2 separate regions of the Homo sapiens genome follow, and region 1 is linked to region 2. Evidence: fine-mapped expression QTL. Tissue or cell type: whole blood. Region 2 holds a variant in brackets; the other region holds the start of a gene. All regions are shown on one strand. Distances are from middle to middle.

What was found. PIP is the estimated chance that this variant, and not a neighbour inherited with it, causes the effect.
Region 1: it holds the start of GORASP1, and the variant in region 2 is fine-mapped to the expression of GORASP1 in whole blood (TOPMed, PIP above 0.99).

Annotation. Positions count from the first base shown.
Region 1 is chr3:39,103,545-39,113,300 of GRCh38, forward strand. GORASP1 (golgi reassembly stacking protein 1) reads right to left here and starts at 4,083. Exons shown (of 9, transcript NM_031899.4): 1 at 3,935-4,083; 2 at 1-9. The coding sequence starts at 3,997. It overlaps TTC21A (tetratricopeptide repeat domain 21A), which reads left to right and starts at 4,136. Exons shown (of 29, transcript NM_001366900.1): 1 at 4,136-4,320; 2 at 5,541-5,670; 3 at 6,485-6,595; 4 at 7,307-7,473; 5 at 8,914-9,036. The coding sequence starts at 4,294. RefSeq lists a silencer at 3,713-4,032.
Region 2 is chr3:39,029,549-39,039,636 of GRCh38, forward strand. It overlaps SCN11A (sodium voltage-gated channel alpha subunit 11), which reads right to left. Exons shown (of 30, transcript NM_001349253.2): 2 at 2,832-2,955. Among named protein-coding and RNA genes, the nearest start is that of SCN11A, 17 kb to the right of the region's middle. The variant A/G (reference allele first, on the strand shown) is at 6,172.

The sequences.
Region 1 (9,756 bases), 74 kb after region 2:
CTCCTGCACCTATCCCACAGCAAAGACCACAGTCACTGCGCCAACCCTGGGACTCTCCAAGTAGCCCTCTCCCCCATTTCAGGAACCATCAGCACTCCCAGTGTGCCAGCCAGAACACATGTCTGGCATGAACTGTTCCGGACATTCTCAGGGTTCACTCCATGGCCTCTTGCTACCTTCCTGGGCACAAATTTTCCTCTTAGGAAAATGGCTCCTTCCTGATTATGATCCACAGATGCTTTCAGAAATGGCTCACAGCCCAGGACATCCTTAGGGGCTCCCAGGAGGCAATATGGAGACAGGCTGGCCCAGGCCTGTGGGAATGCTGCTCTAGAGGGCTAGGCTAGGGTTGGCCGGAAAGCCAAAAGGGTTTACCAGAAAGGTTTAGACTGGACCAGAAGGGAGGGCCCTGACGTGCAGTGGAAGTGGGCAGGCCTCGGGAGGGATACACCCAGGGCTGTACCCAGAAAGAGGGAGTGGGAAAAGCAGCTTGCAGCCAGGTCCCAGCTTGCACCCCAGCCTCTGGGGTGGGAGACCCAGGCTCAGTCCAGCAGGTAATGAAAGCCACTGGCAGAGAAGCAGACCCCAGGGGTAGAACTAGGCCTGAGCCAGGGAGCCCAGTGAGTGGGCAGTGCCAATCCCCACAGCCTGGCTCTGGACTGAGGAGCCCCCCAGTGGCTCAGCTGCCCTACCAGCCTCATAGTGTAGCCTCCATGCCTGTGCAGGACACCTCCTCCAGGAAGCATTCCCATTTCCAGGGTGCTCCCTGCCCCTCCCTGAACTCCCCACCTCACTGCTGTCTCCAAAAGCACAACAACCAGGCTTTGCAGGCTGTGGCAGAAATCCATCCCAAAAGCCCCATATACAGAGCCTGGCTTAAACAATGCAGGCTTTGTCCCAAGGCCCTAGACCCGAAGATGGGCCCACACCCTCAGGTCTTTGGCTGCGGGCATTTGATAACCTGTTGGCGTAGACACCAGCCAGACCCAGCCCAGAGGGCACAGGACCTAGGCTCTTGCTGCCTCCTCATGGGAAAGGCCCTGTGGCTCCTGCTACATACCAGCCCCTCCAGGTTTGGATTCCCCAACCTGAAGGAGAGCTCATGAAGACTAGGCTGAGAACAAACCGCTGAGATCAAGGCCAGTTTGCCCCTGGAATTAGGATTCCCTTCTGGCAGCATCACCAACTGAGCCCCTCCTTATCACCTCCAGAAGCTGCCATGGCTTCCAAAGGGAGTGAGTGCGGCCCAGAAATCAGATCTGGGCCTAGTTGGCCTGGCCCAGTAGGCAAGCTGCTCCCAGGCCCCGCTGCAGGGGAGCTCTGGGCCCTGCCCTCTAACCCTTCAGGTGAGGGGATCTTTCGAAAACCACAGGACAGGACAGTTATTCAGGAATAGCTTGGGGACAATGCCCCTCCCTAATCAGGGCCACCTCCAAATCACTCCACGTCAGGTGCCTGCCTACTTCCCTCCCCACTCCCCAGTATTGCATGTCAGCTGCTCTCCATCATGAATGAGGTCCAGAGGGTCAGGCCCCAGGCCTGGCCTCCTTGACCCACCCAATACCTCCACCACCCTCTCCTGTGGCTTTGTCCTCTGCTTGGCTACACTCCACTTCTCTCACCTGGGGCCTCATCACTACTCACTATGGCTCCGCAGCTGAAATAATCTATGCTGCTGCCCACTGTACGGCTCCCCCTGCAGAAACCACTGCCTGCCATCCAGCTCCCTCAGGGGCTCCCATCACAGCCTGCCCCAAGGCCCTATAGTGCTGCTTTTCCTCATGCTCCCACCCTATTTTTCCCAATCAGGGAACCTAATGGAACTCACAGTGATCACAACTTACACTTACTAAGGGCTGGTTGGCTGAGTGCCAGGGCATGGCACCACCTCACCTGCTTTATGTGTCATTTAACCTTTTTAATAACCTCAAATGACAAATGAGACCAAGTACTCAATAATTCAGTAATTTGACCCCAGGAAATCCAACCCAGAGCCCTCCCCCTAACCACTGCCCTCTCCTAACAGCTGTTTCCTGGTGAATCTGCCACTACTCTAAGCTCGCTGAGGGCAGCGACTTCTCCAAAGTATTGGGCACGCAGCGAGGTGCCAATATTTCTAGAATGCAGCACAGCTGTTCTTCAGTGTTGTTAAAGGTAAGTAGGTCATGTCACTCCTCCATTTAAAACCTCCTGATGGTTTTACATCTCAGAATAAAATCTTAAATCTTCAGGACAACAGGCAAGGTCCTACACGGTCTGCTCTGGTCTCCTCCTCACACTGGCCACACCATCCAAGCACACCAGCCTCACCTGGCATTTCCTCAAACACACAAGCACAACCTACCTCGGGGCCTCTGCACAAGCTGGTCCTTCTGCCTGGAATACTACTATTCCCCTAAATATCTGTATTGTCCACTCTTTACTTCCTTCAGAAGCATCTGTTCGAATGTGACTTGAGAAGAGGCCCTTCCTGACCACTCTATCAAAAATAGCACCCACTCACCATTCTGTATCCCCTTAACCTGCTTTATTTTTATCACTGGTAATTACCACCTACCATGTATTTTTTCATTTCCCTTCTTTCCCTACCATCATCCAAATGTCAGCTCCAGAACAGGGACCATGTTTGTTCTGTTCACTGCTTTATCTCTAGAGCCTTAGAATTCTGCCTGCCAGAGTAGGAGCTCAAAACTTTGTTTTTGTGACTGACAACCTCTGATCCCTGGTCCCTCTCCAATTTGTCCCTCTCCATCAGGCAGGCCCCTCCCGTCTTCGAAGCTCCCATCATCGCCCCACCCCTCCTCTTGCCAATATCCTGAGTTCCTTTGCCTTTAATCAAACCTGTTGGAAGACGCTCCTGGCTGGATGCATTCCACTGTCCACGCTTGCTGTTTGGTGTCTCACCATAAGAAAGCCCATTCCCAAGCACAAATCCTGTCAACTCTGGGTTCTCCAAGCCAGCCTGGTTTTCACGTTAAGAAACTTTTAGCCCTCTCATGTGGTTAGCTGGCAACAGACCCTACCTTCAAAACACACAAACCGACAAGCTTGCCTGTCTCCACTCATCTCTGCATCCAGCTGCCTTTCACTAGGGAAAGGGGGGGTGCAGGGACGCCTCTTCCCCGCAGCGCTCCGGGGTCAGAGACCCCCAGCCCCTCTCACCTACATTATAGCCCTTCCCTCACCGCAGGCACAAATCTCCATCCGGCTGCGGGACCCTCTCCTCACCCTCACAGCACACTCCGTTCTAGGAACCCCACTCCGTCTCCACTCTCCGGAAGCCTGCTCGCCCAGACCTCCATGTAGCGGCATCTAAAGGCTGGGACCCTCCCCAGCTGCAAACGCTCTCCTCGAGGATTCTGCAGCACTCTCCCGGCCCTCCCGCTCCCCACTATCCCGTGGCTGGTTTGCACCGGTCCTCTACCCTCGGAAGCCCTTACGACCCTACGACTGGCAGGACGCGCGCCGACGGGCTCCCCCGCAGCTGCGTCCACTCGGTTAACCCCGGCCCCCGGGACTGTCCTCGGCGTGGCTGACTCTCTTCCCAGGCCCAGCACGGAGAGCGGCCCGCGGCAGGCGAGCGTAAATGTGTGCTAAGTGCACGAGTGCGTCCCGACTGGTAGTGGTGCATTCTTCACCCGGGAGGAGCGCCATTCCCGGCGGCCGGACCAGGAAAACGCTCCGCTTCCGGCACTGCTGGCACTTGGGGCGGGCGCTGGGCCCGACCGCGGCCGCGGACTAGCCAGGGTCCGGGAGTCCCGCGAGGCCGCCTCTCCCAGGAGGCTCCCACCGGGCAGGGGGCACCTCCCGCCACCCAGGCGGAAACACTCGGGCCGGGACCCCGCCGCAGTCGCCAGCCAGCCGGCGACCGGACGCCCGGGCGCGGGGTTGCGGGCGCCTCGCCAAGGTCACCGGCGCCGCGGCGGCAACTCACCCCGTGGAGGTGGAAGCCCTCGGCGCCGCCTGCGGGCTGCTCAGCGCTGACGCCCAGGCCCATGGCAGCGGCTCCGCTCGGCACCCAGGTCCAGTCCCGCTGCGCCTACCCGGACCGACCCGACGCCAGTAGCACCGACTCGCTCTCTCGGCGCTCGATTCCTGCGCCTTGTGACGTGAGGCGTTTTGTTCCTCCCACTCCAGACACTGGACGCTCCTAGCAACCGGCTAGCAGCTCGGTTTCCAAGGACTGTAACGCCTTCAACCGCCCGCCGCGATAGAGTGCCCACGACCCTGCCTCGGGAATCCCGCTCTGCACCGCCCCACCAGACCCGGACTCGGAGCCGCGAGCGGCCCGAGATGAGCAGCAATGACTCCTCCCTTATGGTGCGTGGCCCGGGCGCTGTCCGAGGGCTCCCTCGTGACTCCCCGCCCCTGACCCAGAGACCGTCTGCCCTGCTACTCTCCTGCCACCCTTCGCTGTCCTCAGTTATATCAGGCGGTCCTGCCTTTTCTTGCCCCACTCCCCCTGGCAAGGGCGTCTTCTCCGGTGGCTTCTGCGCACCCTGAGCCCCAAATTAGCATCCCCGTTTCTTGAGCTACCCCAAACCAGCTCATCCAATCACTATCATTATCCCTTCTTGTCATCATCCCTTCTTCCACCCAGCTCACTCTCGCCTGCGCCTCCCACCCCAGTTGATGGCTTCACCATTTAATCTCCTAGCCTTAACTCATACCTCTTCCCTATACTCATCTTCTAATCCTGTCTACAAGAAATGCCAGCTCCTTGATGTCTCCTGGGTTTTCTTTTTATCTTTTTATCTTCTAGCCCAGAACCAGCACCATCTCTCCCCCCTGAGAGCCTGCAACAGCCTCCCTCCCATCTGGTTTCTCTGCTGTGGCTCTTTTCAGCATCAGTAGTCCCTGCTGCCACCACGGCACACACCCCCCACATGCAAAAGCAGCCAGAGTGGTTGTTGCAAAAATGTACATCTGAAAACATCCCTCGCCTTAAAACCATTCTGCTTTCTGTTACCCTTAGGATGGTGTCTGGGCTCTTTCATATGGCCCATGAGGATGTTTACAGTCCAACCACATCTGCTCCCAACCTAGCACCCACAAACCTTAGAGGAAGTGAAACTTAACTTTAAAATCTCAGCCCCTTTGTCAAGCTGTAGTTTCCATGGGCTTAAGCTTCCTTAGCTGTGAAAGATACTGAGAGGACCATGCACAGGATAGTGGATATGAAGCCCACAATAACTTGTAACTACAATTCGTATAATTTTTCTTATTATTTGTCCTCATTTTTCCCCCCTTATTCCCTTCCTAAGACAAAGCCTTGGTTGAATTCCCCATCATAGTTGAACCAGAATCTGTTGGTAATCCCCCAAACAAACACCTCCAAACTCTTTCCTGGGAAAACTGCATGGAGCTGCTCCCAGGGCTGTTAGAGGACAGGATGAGGCCTGAATGTTTCCTCTTTCTCTTCCCTTTGCAGAACTGAGGAGGAGCAGGGGATAGGGAAGGGAGCAGGTCTCATCCCATCTGGGACAGAACAGAGACAGAGAAGGGACTGGGCTATTGCAGTTATGTCTTCCTTCATACAGGCTGGGATCATTTACTATAGCCAGGAAAAGTACTTCCACCATGTGCAGCAGGCTGCAGCTGTGGGCCTGGAAAAATTCAGCAATGACCCTGTGTTGAAGTTCTTTAAAGCCTATGGAGTCCTCAAAGAAGGTAAGGACTTGGCAGTGTTGGTCTTGTGACCCCAGGCACTAGCTGGGCCCTAACACTCTGGCTCCACCTGGATGCCTTCTTGTATCCTAGTTATGGTCCCATAAAAACAGTTTCACACTCAGCGGCTGGATTCCCACGGGAATCCACAGAGGCCTACGTAATCCATATCTAGTTGACTTTTGAGACCTCAGAGCGCTGACTATCCCTGCTCTGCACCTCGGGTTCCCTCTCTGTAAAATGAGTGGTTGGAGAGATAGCTGCATGATTCTTGAAGTAATTCCAGGCCTGGAAGCTGAGAACTGGTAATGCAGGCAAAGGAGGGGGAAGAGGTAGGTGTGAGGACAGGTGGGTATGGTACAGGTACAGGGAGAGGAGTGAGACCCATGCAGGTGCAGATGGGCTGACATTCAGAAGGTGGTCCTAGGCTGAGGACTGGCAGAATAGCCCATGGCCAAATGTCTGAGGACATGGAGGGATAAATGTAATCAGTGGCTCTTGAGCAGTAGCTGAGAATGCCCTGCCTGAGGTCCTTCTTCAGAACTGACGCAGCTAATAATTGCAGCCTCACACATATCCCCACAAGTACTCACAGGGTGAACCTTTCAAGTCCAAGATTTCCAGCCCCTAACAGCCTGGACCATGTTACCAGCAACTCTTTCAAAGAGCCCCAATCTTCAGGGAACTTGGGTCACTGGGGACCTTTCAGACCAGTTAGTCCAGCAGGTAGTAGTGCTGAGCTGTTGGGTCAGCTACAGAGTCTCATGTCCTCTAGTCCTGGAGCTTGAGAGTATAACTATGTGGACTGTCTTTGCAGAGCACATCCAGGATGCCATCAGTGACCTGGAAAGCATCAGGCATCACCCAGACGTGTCCCTGTGCTCCACCATGGCCCTCATTTATGCTCACAAAAGATGTGAAATCATTGGTGAGTGCCACCATGCTCAACCAGGCCTGACCCACCAGGGGAAGGAAAGCCCTGCCCCAGAGATAACACAGCCCCTCAAGGGCTGCCAAAGGAGGTATGTGCCCTGGTGGCTGTGCAGATGCTGTTAACCAGTGAGAAGTGGCTGCTGCTCCTCTCCCCCTGGAGGCCTGGGAGAAGACTCCATGCCTGGGCCCAACTGAGTGGAAGCAGGCAGAGCCCATGACAGTGGGAGGGGCCCATGCTCCAGATCCCAAGAGTTGGGGAAACACCCTTCTTCTTTGCCAAGATCTTGTCAGAAAAACCAAGCCAATATATATAATTCTACCCCTAATCTCCACATTTCTAGAGTCAGGGAGAGGGTCCAAGAGAGACTACAGACTACTATTTCCCTACTCACAATAAGTTGTGGGCCTGAGGCTAAGGATTTTGGTTTGGCCTGCCTGCTCAGCACACTGCTGGGCACAGAGAAGAGAAGGTAATCTCAGACAGCACACGTGAGTCCACACCAGGGCAGCCCCTGCAGCATCTCAAGGGCAGGTACTGCTGGTTTCCAGGCCTTGGGCTGCATGCGGTGTGCTGCATATGTTGAAGGAGATCCACAGTGTCTGGGGGAGACCCCGAGGTAGTTCCCTGGGCCCTCGGTGGCCCATGCAGAACCAGGCAGACTTCCACATCCTAACTCTCCCTCTTCCTTCGCTCTTGGATTTACAGACCGAGAAGCAATTCAGGAGCTTGAGTACAGCCTGAAGGAAATACGCAAGACAGTCAGTGGGACTGCACTGTACTATGCTGGCCTTTTCCTCTGGCTCATAGGCCGCCATGACAAGGCCAAAGAGTACATTGACCGCATGCTGAAGATTTCTAGAGGCTTCAGAGAGGTACTTACCACACCATGGGGACAACAGGCGAAGAAAGCAGCATCCAAACACATAATAGCAGGGTGGCCCTCATTCCCACAAAGGGCCCTGAAACTGGGGGAGAGCCACACCCAGGCACTGGCAAAACACCGGGTCTCACAGTTGCCCCACGCGTGTTGTCTCTGGGCTTAGCAGAGGTTACACATTGGCATTTGTACACAGAGTCTGATCTTTAGATAGATTTTCTATGGCTTGCACCATATTCTTAAGAAATTTTTTTTTGAGACCTCACTGCAGCCTCAACCTCCTAGGCACAAGCAATCCTTCCACCTCAGCCCCCCAAGTAGCTGGGACCATAGGTGTGTGCCAGCATGCCCAGCTAGTTTTTACATTTTTTGTAGAGACTGGGTCTTGCCATGTTGCCCAGGCTGGTCCAGACTTACTGGTTCTTTTGAAGACCCAGATGAGCTGGCCACACTGGGCCATTCCCTCCCTGTAATGCTCTGCTGGAACTGAATGGTGGCTCATGCAGTGCAGCCCATATACTGTATATCTGCACTAATATGGAATTTGAAGCCTCAGTCTAGGCCATGCCTTCTCAGCAGGGCTGATACCAATTTTCAAGGGTGTAGACATGGTCCCTGGGGGAGAGGGTGAAAAAAATCTTACTCTTTATGTATAAAACACAGATATATATACAGTACACAATACACAGATACGGTATATCTGAGGCACTAACATTTCTTGGAAGGGGAGGGATTGATTAGAAAACAGTATCTAAAGAGACTCCTTAGGATAGATAATAGAAAAAGAGAAATAGAACTATAATAGAGAAATACTGATCTAGGCCATCAAGAGGGGTGCTTTAGGGCAGGGCTCTTCCAAGTCTGCTTCCCAGGCCTGGCCCTCCCCATCTGCCTGGAGAGGCTGGGTGAAGGCTAACATGGAACCAGCGAGGTCCACGAGCTCAGAACGGCTCCTGCTCACCCACTCAGAGGGCATTCCTTGGCTTCCTATGCAGGGCCAGGCCTCGTGCTGGCCTAAGGAGTGGAGACATCAAGAGTGGCCTTGCGTAGGCCCCCATGTTGGCTCCTGACCCCAGTGTAAACAGGCAATGACAGGATAGGTGAGTGTGCCTCAGTAAGGGTCATGGAGAGCTGTAGGGGTACAGGGAGGGAGGCCTCCTAAGCAGGGGCCTCTGAGGCTGAGTTGTAAGTAGTGGTAATGGACATTAGGTGAAGGGGTTTGGTTGGGAGTGGGAGGGGCGCTGTCCAGGGCATTTCCAGACAAAGCAACAATGGGAGTCCTGGCCATGAGAGAGAGCTGGCTGCCCTGGGATCTGCACGGGACTGTGCCTGGCAGGGCCTCAGGGTTTTGGGTGGCAAAGTGTGGATCATGTGCAGGCTGAGTTGATTCTGTGCAGGACCAAGGACTTCATCTTTCATCTTGTTCTCATCCCAGGCCTATGTGCTCAGAGGCTGGGTGGACCTGACCTCAGACAAGCCCCACACTGCGAAGAAAGCCATTGAGTACCTGGAACAAGGAATTCAGGACACCAAAGATGTGCTGGGGCTGATGGGAAAGGTGGGCAGTGGAAAAGGGAGAGGTGGAAGTATTCCTGGCCAGGCCACTGGAACCAGAGACCCACCAGGTACCCCCAGGCCAAACCCTCGTAGTCTCCAGATGCCTCATCTCGTAGATAAAGAGCAGAGGCCCAGAGAGGTTCAGCAACCAATCCAGGGTTACACAGCAGTCCAAGGTCCACTCTACTTCTCAGATTTCTTCCTGCTTGATCTGAGTTTCTGTCTCATTTGCATGGGGGTCTTCTCAGGGTCACTTTCTTAAGGTCTATCCTTCCTTGACCCTCTCAGGCTTTCTCTCTGCCTCTGTGTTAGTTTCACTCAGTGCCCTTCTCCCTTTCTTCTTTTATTTTGACCTTCCCATTTCACTTCTTTCTACCTGTTAAATTCATTTAGTGTGCCGTAAGAGAAGGGAGGTATATATTTTATATGTTCTGTGTTTTCTGATCTTAAGTTTCTTTTTTCTCTTGTGAACCTCATGGAATTAATCTTTGAGAGAAAAAATGTCCTCGTATTTTCTTCTGTTTGCATATATTTTTATTATAAAAGAATACATACTTATTTAAGAAAACAGAAGCCTAAAAAAAGTCAACAGATGAATTAAAATGGCAGGCTTAGTCTTACCGCTCCAAGACAAATGTTAGTATTTTAGGGCAATGTCTTCTAGTCTTCTTTCTATACTTGGGTCCAGGGTGTGTATTAGGTTGGTTTTCTGGCTGGCAGA
Region 2 (10,088 bases):
TGAAGAGATGGTTCAAGGCAAACGTAGTACAACTCAGGGCATTTAGAATGTAGCTACATTTGGAACAGCATCTCTCACATCTTCTCCTGTCTTCCAGATGTTACTGAGTTGTTACCTTCTCATTCATAGCAGTTCAGCAATGAAGATTTAATTGAAATGTAAGAAAAAGGGTCCATTGGACAGTCACCATGGCAACTGCCCCTCCCACAATATTTACCATTCAAAGGCTTCTGCAGGCATTCATGTACAACCAATTAGCAAAGAAAGATTCCAGATTCACAACCCTAATTTTGAATGCAGTTTGAAGGTGCTTAGAGACATAAAGAATGCCTGTGCTTTCTATAGGGAGATTACTAGGAAAAGAATTGTCTTCAGTTCCAGCTTCTGTGGCAAGATGATTTGTTCAGACATTAGAGTATATTTTGTTTTTAGTGTAATTTTTCTTCCATTTCCACCATCTGCTGAGGGTTGCCAGCCCACAGTGCTTGCTGGTCTCAAGAGTGGTTTATATTCCTGGGCATAAGGCAGAAACTGCTTAAAGATCATCTCTAGTCTTGCCCTTAGTGAAAGCTCAAGCTCACTGAAGAGTTTTAAACTATAAATCTAAGTGGGGAGGGGCATGGCGAGGAGAAGCCAATTCTCTTTGGAGGCAAGAGGAGGAGTGAGCGAAAGCAGGAGATGCTCTGCAAAGAGGGCAGACCTGTAACCACTGCTGAAAACATCTAGGTTGGTGACAGAACCTGGTCGTGATGGCTGGAGCTCTTCAGGAAGTGCAGCCCTAGGCACTGGGATTCCCGGTCCTAACAAAAAATCCCAGTCTCAACGGCAGAAAAGACCAGTGGCTCGCCCACTTCCACAGGACCATATTTCTGACACCCTAAGGCATCTCAGCCCTAACCACTATGGCCTGAGGATTGTTGGTGCTTCCAGGCATATAACCCCTGGGATACATGAGTGACTTTATGGTATATTAGAGTGTCAGAAGAATCTTAACAGTAACTGAAGTTACGTTTTCTATCATTTTAGCTGGCCAAGAGCTTGAAATTATTTTTATTTTTAATAATGCGACATCCAATTTGACACATCAGTTTGTGGATTAAAATTTACATCCAGCGCACGTTTTTAGACTAGTATTGTTAAGAAGCCTCAGCCAGTTCAGCTCCTAACAAAAATCCTACCACACACACACACAAAGCACATTTGTGACATGGTTTTTATATTGTTTTTATTTTGCCCACTTAGTACTTTACAAACACATTTTGCTTTATTTCTTTTAATGTATTTTCATGATCAATTATAGAACTTTTATGGGAGAAAATAGGTTTCCTGAAAAGATACTTTGGTTATGACTTTTCATCAGTAGGGATTAAGTGTTAAGTATTTTGAAGTCTGACTTGTCATATTCGCCAGTTAGTTCAAATCAAGGATGGCCTGGATGGTTCTCTACTGCCCTCCAGTGGGAAAGCTAGATGGAGGTCAAAGCATTTTTGAAATGGAAAATGGACTGGTTTATGTGTCTCTAATATTGGGACGTAAAATATATAGACAGAAGGAGATAAAAGAACTGAAGGATGTTTTCTTCTCAGTGTGTTCAGAAATAAGTGAACTGTTGAACAATGAACCATTCAGCACCATGACTTCTTACAACTTCAAAAGGATATTGTAAATACTGTATTTAAAACCGAGGTCTTGGCCAGGCACGGTGGCTCTCGCTTGCCTATAATCCCAACACTTTGGCGGGCCAAAGCAGGAGGATCACTTGAGGTCAGAAGTTGGAGACCAGCCTGGCCAACACGGTGAAACCCCATCTCTACTAAAAATACAAAAATTAGCTGGGTGTGGTGGCATGTGACTATAATCCCAGTTACTTGGGAGGCTGAGGCAGGAGAATAGCTTGAACCTGGGAGGTGGAGGTTGCAATGAGCCAAGATTGCACCAGTGCACTCCAGCCTGGGTGACAGAGTGAGATTCTGTCAAACAAAAAACAAACAAACAAAAAAAAAACAAACAAAGAAGGAAGGAAAAAGAAAAAGAAAGATAAAATGGAGGTCTTTCTGCCAGGACAAAAATAGTACACAACTTTGAACTTAAACATTTTAAGCATTCTGAGTCTCTATGTATACTTATATAATCTTGCTTTACTTCTGTATAATTATTTAATTATGATCTTCTAGTCTATTATATATCATAACACCCTTATTTCTTCAAAGAAGACTATTAAAGGGCTATGAAGAAATTATGCGGCTTCTTAGTTTCTCCGTGAATCTGATTAATATCCGTGATAGGCTTGCATTAAAAAGTTTATTTTGTTTACAGAAAAAGTTTGCCAAACCCTGCTAAGTCAGAATTCCCACCACATTTGCATCCTGCTTTAACCAACTGATAGATATATTTTACAGTGAAGGAAAAACTTAGAAAAAGTACATTTTACTAACATAAAAACAAACAAAAAAAAACCAAAAATGGTTATACAAAAGGAGTGGATTAATCTCTGAATACTGACTGATTCTTACGTGCTCATTTCCCCCTGTACTTCTAAATATACTTCTAGAACTGATGTGTTTAAAACAGATTGATGTCTGTGTCAGGAGCAGGGCAATAAAATAAACTCAGTTGCTCAAAAAATTAGTTTATTTAGCATTTCTGCATTATTTAAATGAGTCTTATTCTATTCTTTTAAAAATCTGTCTTTAAAATATCCAAATTAACATATTAATCACTAACAGACAGTGGTGGTTATAAATAAAGGCTCTAATTATGTTGCATTTTTAAATATATTTTCAAAATATATTAATTCCTCTTGAACAAACAAAAAATATGAAAACACTCACCGCTCCCCTCTGGTAAACAAGATGCCAACTCTAGGGTACGGTGGAAAGACATACTGGATACTTTCACTGTGTTCAGCAAATGGATTGAACATGGAGCCAAAAACATGCGAAGCACTGGGACAATCTGAAAACAACAACAACAACAAAAAAAACAAGCTTTATCATTTCACAAGACCTTTTCCAGGTTGTAAAAGCAAGAGAGGAGGCAAGAAAAACAGAAAATTTCAAACTGATTTGAAAATTTTTAAAAAGTGATAGAGCCTGTATTACATAAAACTTATGAGACAGTTGACTCTAGGAAATTATAACACTTTGCCAATGTTTCCTGGGCAAGCTGATTATTAAAAATAATACCTAAAATATATTGAATATTTCCTGCATACTAAGTGCTATGCTAAGATCATCTCATTTGAATTCAGAAGACCCATATGAAATGGGTACCATTTTTATTACCATTTTACAGATAAAGAAATTGAAGATGAGAGAAACTGGCCAGGCACAGTGGCTCATGCCTACAATCCCAACACTTTGGGAGGCCGAGGTGGGCAGATCACTTGAGGTCAGGAGTTCGAGACCAGCCTGGCCAACATGGCGAAACCCTGACTCTACTAAAAATACAAAAATTAGCCAAGCTATGGTGGCGGGCGCCCGTAATCCCAGCTACTGGGGAGGCTGAGGCAGGAGAATTGCTTGAACCTGGGAGGTGGAGGTTGCAGTGAGCTGAGATAGCGCCACTGCACTCCAGCCTGGGTAACAGAAGGAGGTTGCATCTTGAAAAAAAAAAAAAGAGAGAGAGAGAGAAAACTTAATTAACTTGCTCAGGTAATTGGCAGAAGAAAGATCAAACTTCAGAGGATGATTTAACAATAGCAAGTCTGGTTTGTTTGGAAGCAGAAGCCTTCTAAAACTCTTATTTACTTTTTATATTTACTTTTTATATTTACTACATTTTTGTTTATTAGACATGTGAGGTTTCTTTCCAGATGTTAAACTTTTTTCATGTACAATCTACATTTTATTGCACAAAAATGCTTAAAACAAAGATTCGAGACTCAAAGAGAACAGAACTACAATATACCTCAGAAGTACCTTGTGAGAAAAGCATTGTTATTACTATTTTACAGATTAGTTAAGACCTTGGGGGCTTGGAGAGATAATGTGAATTCTCAAAGGGCAAAGGCTGACCTAGGACTTGAACCACATCATGTGAATAACTTCAGGTGTGTAAGATTGACTTGAGAATATTCCTTAGGTCATGGCACATGGCTATCATTAGGCATTCACAGGGAATCTGAGAGATTATATGAACACATCACAGTACAGCTGGCCCTCAATATCCATGGGTTCCACATCTGTGGATTCAAGCAACTGCAAATAAAAAATATTTGAAAAAAACTCAAGAGTTTTTTTCTTGTTATTGCCTAAACAATATAGTAGAACTACTATTTACATAGCATTTACATTGTATTGGGTATAAGTAATCTAGAGATAATTAAAAGTATAGGATGGGCATGGTGGCTCACACTTGTAATCCCAGCACTTTGGGAGGCCAAGGTGGGCAGATCACAAGGTCAGGAGTTCGAGACCAGCCTGGCCAACATAATGAAACACCATTTCTACTAAAAATACAAAAATTAGCAGGCATGGTGGTGTGCATCTGTAATCCCAGCTACTCAGGAGGCTGAAGCAGGAGAATTGCTTGCACCCAGGAGGCGGAGGTTGCAGTGAGCCGAGATCGCACCACTGCATTCCAGCCTGGACAACAGAGTGAGACTCCATCTCAAAAACAAAACAAAACAAACAAAAAAACTATACAGGAGGCAACAAAATACCAGCAAATAGAATTCATCAGCACATTAAAAAGATCGTTCATTATGACCAAGTGGAATTCAGCCCAGAGATGCAAGGACGGTTCAACATATACAAATTAATTAAGGTGATACAACATATTAACAGAATAAAGGACAAAAATCATATGATCATTTCAATTGATGCTGAGAAAGCATTTGATAAAATCCAACATCCCTTCATGATAAAAAAAAATCCTCAAAGAACTGGACATAGAAGGAACATATCTCAACACAGTAAAAGCCATATACAACAGACCTATGTCAGTATCAGACTAAATGCAGAAGAACTGAAAGTCTTTCCTCGAAGATCTGGAACACAACAAAGATGTCCACTTTCATCACTGTTATTGAATATTTTAATAGTAGTCAGTGTCCTAGCTAGAGCAACCCAGTAAGAGAAATAAATAAAAGGCATACAAATTGGAAAGAAAGAAGTCAAATTATCTTTGTTTGCAGATATGATCTTACATTGGGAAAAACTTAAAGACTCTATCAAAAAACTATTAGAACTGATAAACAAATTCAGTAGAGTTGCAGGATATAAAAATCAACATAAAAAATCAGTAGCATTCCTGTATGTCAATAGTGAACAATCTGAAGGAAGGTAATTCTATTTACAATAACAACAAATCAAATAAAAACCAAGAATAAACTTAATCAAAAAAGTAAAAGATCTCTATAATGAAAACTATAAAATGTTGATAAAGGAAATTGAAGCAGACACACAAAAAATAGAAAGATATACCATGTTCATGGATTGGAAGAATTAATATTGTTAAAATGTCCATACCACCAAAAGCAATCTACAGACTCAATGCAATCCCTATGAAAATAACAATAACATTCTTCACAGAAATAAAAAAAAATCCTAAAATTTATACGGAACCATGAAAGGCCCAGAATAGCCAAAGCCATCCTAAGCAGAAAGAACAAAACTGAAGGAATCACATTACCTGACTTCAAATTATATTACAGAGCCATAGTAACAAAAACAGTATGGTACTGACACAAAAACAGACACACAGACCAAGGGAACAGAATAGAGAATCCAGAAATAAATCCATACATCTACAATGAACTCACTTTTGATAAAGGTGCCAAGTACATACACTGGGGAAAGGACAGTCTCTTCAGTAAATGGTGCTGGGAAAACTGGATATCCATATGCAAAAGAATGAAACTAGGCCCCTATCTCTTGCCGTATATAAAAATCAAATCAAAATGGATTAAGGACTTAAATCTAAGACCTCAAACTATGAAACAACTAAAGGAAAACATTGAGGAAACTCTCCAGGACATTAGTCTGGGCAAAATTTTTTCTTTTTTCTTTTTTTAGAGATGGGATCTCCCTATGTTGCTCTGGCTGAAGTGCAGTGGCTATTCACAGGTGTGATCCTGGTACTGATCAACATGGAAGGTTTTTTTTTTTAGATGGAGTCTCGCTCTGTTGCCCAGGCTGGCGTGCAGTGGCACAATCTCAGCTCACTGCA[A/G]GCTCCGCCTCCCGGGTTCATGCCATTCTCCTGCCTCAGCCTCCCGAGTAGCTGGGACTACAGGCACCCGCCACCACGCCTGGCTAATTTTTTGTATTTTTAGTAGAGACAGGGTTTCACCATGTTAGCCAGGATGGTCTCAATCTCCTGACCTTGTGATCCACCCGCCTTGGCCTTCCAAAGTGCTGGGATTACAGGCGTGAGCCACTGTGCCTGGCAACATTGAAGTTTTGACTTGCTACATTTCTGACTTGGGCTAGTCCAATCCTCCTTAGGCAACCAGGTGGTCTGGTCCCCTGCTCCTGGGAGGTCACCACATTGATGCCAAATTTAGTGCAGAAACTTGATTGGCATAGTGCGTTATAGCCCAGAACTCCTGGACTTAAGCAATCCTCCTGCGTCAGCTTTCTGCACTCAGCAGATTTCTTTTTATTTTTTTTTAGAGACAGAGTCTCACTCCGTAGCCCAGGCTGGAGTGCAATGGCACAATATCAGCTCACTGCAACCTCCGCCTCCCAGGTTCAAGAGATTCTCACGCCTCAGGCCTCCCAAGTAGCTGGGATTATAGCCATGCCCCACCACATCTGGCTAATTTATGTATTTTTAGTAGAGACGGGATTTTGCCATGTTGGCCAGGCTGATCTCAAACTCCTGGCCTCAAGTGATCTACCCGCCTCGGCCTCCTAAAGTGCTGAGATTACAGGCAAGAGCCACCACACCTGGCCAAGCAGATTTCTTGAGTAATATCCCAAAAGCACAGACAATCAAAGAAAATGGATAAGTGGGATCACGTCAAGCTAAAAAGCTTCTGCACAGCAAAGGAAATAATCAACAAAGTGAAGAGAGAATACATAGAACGGGAAAAAATATTTGCAAACTATCCATCTGACAAGTGGTTAATAACCAGAATATATAAGGAACACAAACAACTCTGTAAGAAAAAATCTAATAATCCAATTAAAAATGGGCAAAAGATCTGAATAGATATTTCTCAAAAGAAGACATACGAATGAAAAGGTGCCCAACATCACTGATCATCAAAGAAATGCAGATCAAAACTATATTATCTCACCCCAGTTAAAATGGCTTTTATCCAAAAGACAGGCAATAACAAATGCTAGTGGAGAAAAGGGAACCCTCATATACTGTTAGTGGGAATGTAAATTAGTACAGCCACTCTGGAGAACAGTATAGAAGTTCCCTCAAGAAACTGAAAATAGAACTACTATACGATCCAGCAATCCCACTGCTAGGTATATAGCCAAAAGAAAGGAAATCAGTATATTGAAGAGATATCTGCACTCTCATGTTTATTGCAGCTCTACTCATAATAGCCAAGATTTGGAATCAACCTAAGTGTTCATCAACAGACAAGTGGATAAAGAAAATGTGGCACGTGTATACGATAGAGTACTATTCAGCTACAAAAAGGAATGAGATCGTGTCATTTGCAACAACGTGGATGGAACTGGAGGACGTTATGTTAAGTGAAATAAGCCAGGCATAGAAAAACAAACTTTGCATGTTATTACTAATTTGTAGGAAGTAAAAATTAAAACAATTGAACTCATGGAGATAGAGTAAAATGATGGTTACTAAAAGCTGTGAAGGGTAGTGGTGGGGGTCAGGGAAGTGGGTATCATTAATGGGTACAAAAATATAGTTAGATAGAATGAATAAAACCTAGTATTTGATAGCACAAGAAGGTGACTACAGTCATTTATAATTTGTTGTATGTTTTAGAATAACTAAGGGAGTACAATTGGAATGTTTGTAACGCAAAGAAATATGAATGTTTCAGGTAATAGATACGCCATATACCCTGATGTGATTATTGCACATTGTATGCCTCTATCAAAGTATCTCATGTACCTCATAAATATATATACATCTACTATATACCTATAAAATTAAAAATAAAAAAAATTAAACTGTACAGGAGGATGTGCTTAGGTTATATGCAAACACTATCCCATTTTATATCAGAGACTAGAGTATACTTGGATTTTGGTATCAGAGGAGGTCCTGGAACAAATCCCCCATAGATATTGAGGGATGACTGTACTTATAATGGGGGATAGAAATGAGAATGGGAGCCGAAAATAAAGAAGGATGTTAAACCTTTCATATTATCTAGGAGTTTTGGCAGAAGTCTTAAAAGCTGAAAACAATGTAATAGGTGTCAAGGCTTCTTACATTTTGAATAACGAAACCAATCTTTTCATAAAGAAAATGCTAAAAAGATTGTTAAAGGAATTCTGCCAGGACAAGCCTCCTAGCAATTTTGTAAGAGAAGGCAAAGAATTAAATGGTAGATTGAAGAGGGTGATGGTAAGAATATCTTTGTGAGAGCTGTGAAGGCGCTGTGACATTTCCACTCCCCATGAGGAAGAGAAGGTGTATTAGTTATCTTTTGTTGCAATGCAAATTATCCCACAACTTAGCCACTTAAAACAATAATAAACATTTATTGTTTCACACAGTTTCTGTAGTTCAGGAATTCAGGAGCAGTTTAGGTGGTTGGTTGTAGCTCAGAGTTTCATGAGGTTGCAGTCAAGATGTTATCTGATTAGTCAAGCTGAGGTTACATGAACATACTTTAACTATAGAAGTGAGTAACTATCCTCATTTTCTATAGTGGGAGTATTGCTCACCACAACCAAGACACATACAGTGAGGAATTCCACACACATAGAAAGAGGGCTCAGATGATAAACAGCAGAAAATAAAACCACAAAAATGTCAAACACAAAGTCATCCCTTTGGTTGCCCAACACCAATATAACCATTGCTTCCAATGTTTACATTTCAAAAAAGTGTTGCCACTTAAAATATTGCAATTTTCCTTTATACAATCAAAGATGCACTCACACTGTCACTCTCCAAGGAAGTCAATCCAATGTGTCATCAGTTACCACATCCATCAACCCAATTCCAAGTCTAGAACCATCCATCACCAAGTCTAGTTGGTGGCCATTCTTCTTCAAGTTCTGTACTGATTTCGTATCCACATTCTGATACTTATGGACTAAATAATGAAGTTTACAACAGTATCACACCCTACATACAATAGTGAAGTATAAAGGCTAAAGAAAAGTGAAAACACATAAAAGAATACATGAAACATTAAAAAATACATAAACAAGATGACAACTCTCATTTCTTCCCCTGATCATAAGGCCTTCCCTCCATTTATGACTTCCTTTCTCTACTAGCGATTCCATGTTCCTTTTACTTTCAGCCAATACCTTCATTTCTAAGGGATCCAAGCATTTGGTAGATCTATCTGTTTAAAGATATACCAGCAGAACTATTTTTTTTGCTTGATGATAAGTTTAATAACATCAATCAATACCATAACCTTCTTCCTCTCTTTCACCTTCTTCTTCTCTTGCTTATCCAATGATAGATGACATGGAAAATGGTCAGATGGCAGTCTCAGCTCCAAATCAAAGAAATCATTGTTTAGCCCTTGCTGGAGGAACTCCTTTCTTTAGAAACAAACCTCTAAAACCACCGAAGCCCAGAATTTCAGAGAATGGAAGTCTAAAAAATTGTTTTAAGTGGGTCATTAGGTATAATATCCCTTTGTTTCTGAATCTATTTATTTTGCCTATGGCAGTGTGATGGTTTTAAAATACATCCACAAACACACAATGAACCCTCTCCTGCAGACTCCCTGGGACCTAAGCTGTCACGGCATGGTACCATTTTGGGAAAGAAGCCACTGCTGAAGTACATCCTGCCCCAGGATCCAATGGCCCTATGTCTCCAATATCCCTGGGGCCCTGCGGTCATTCCACCATGCCCATACAGAAGACTGAGTGCCAGTATCCCAGCCAGACCTAGCAGTAGAGCCATGACTCTAGCACTAAAGCCCACATAGCACTCTGTGCTCCAGGAAGCAGGTAGTCCAG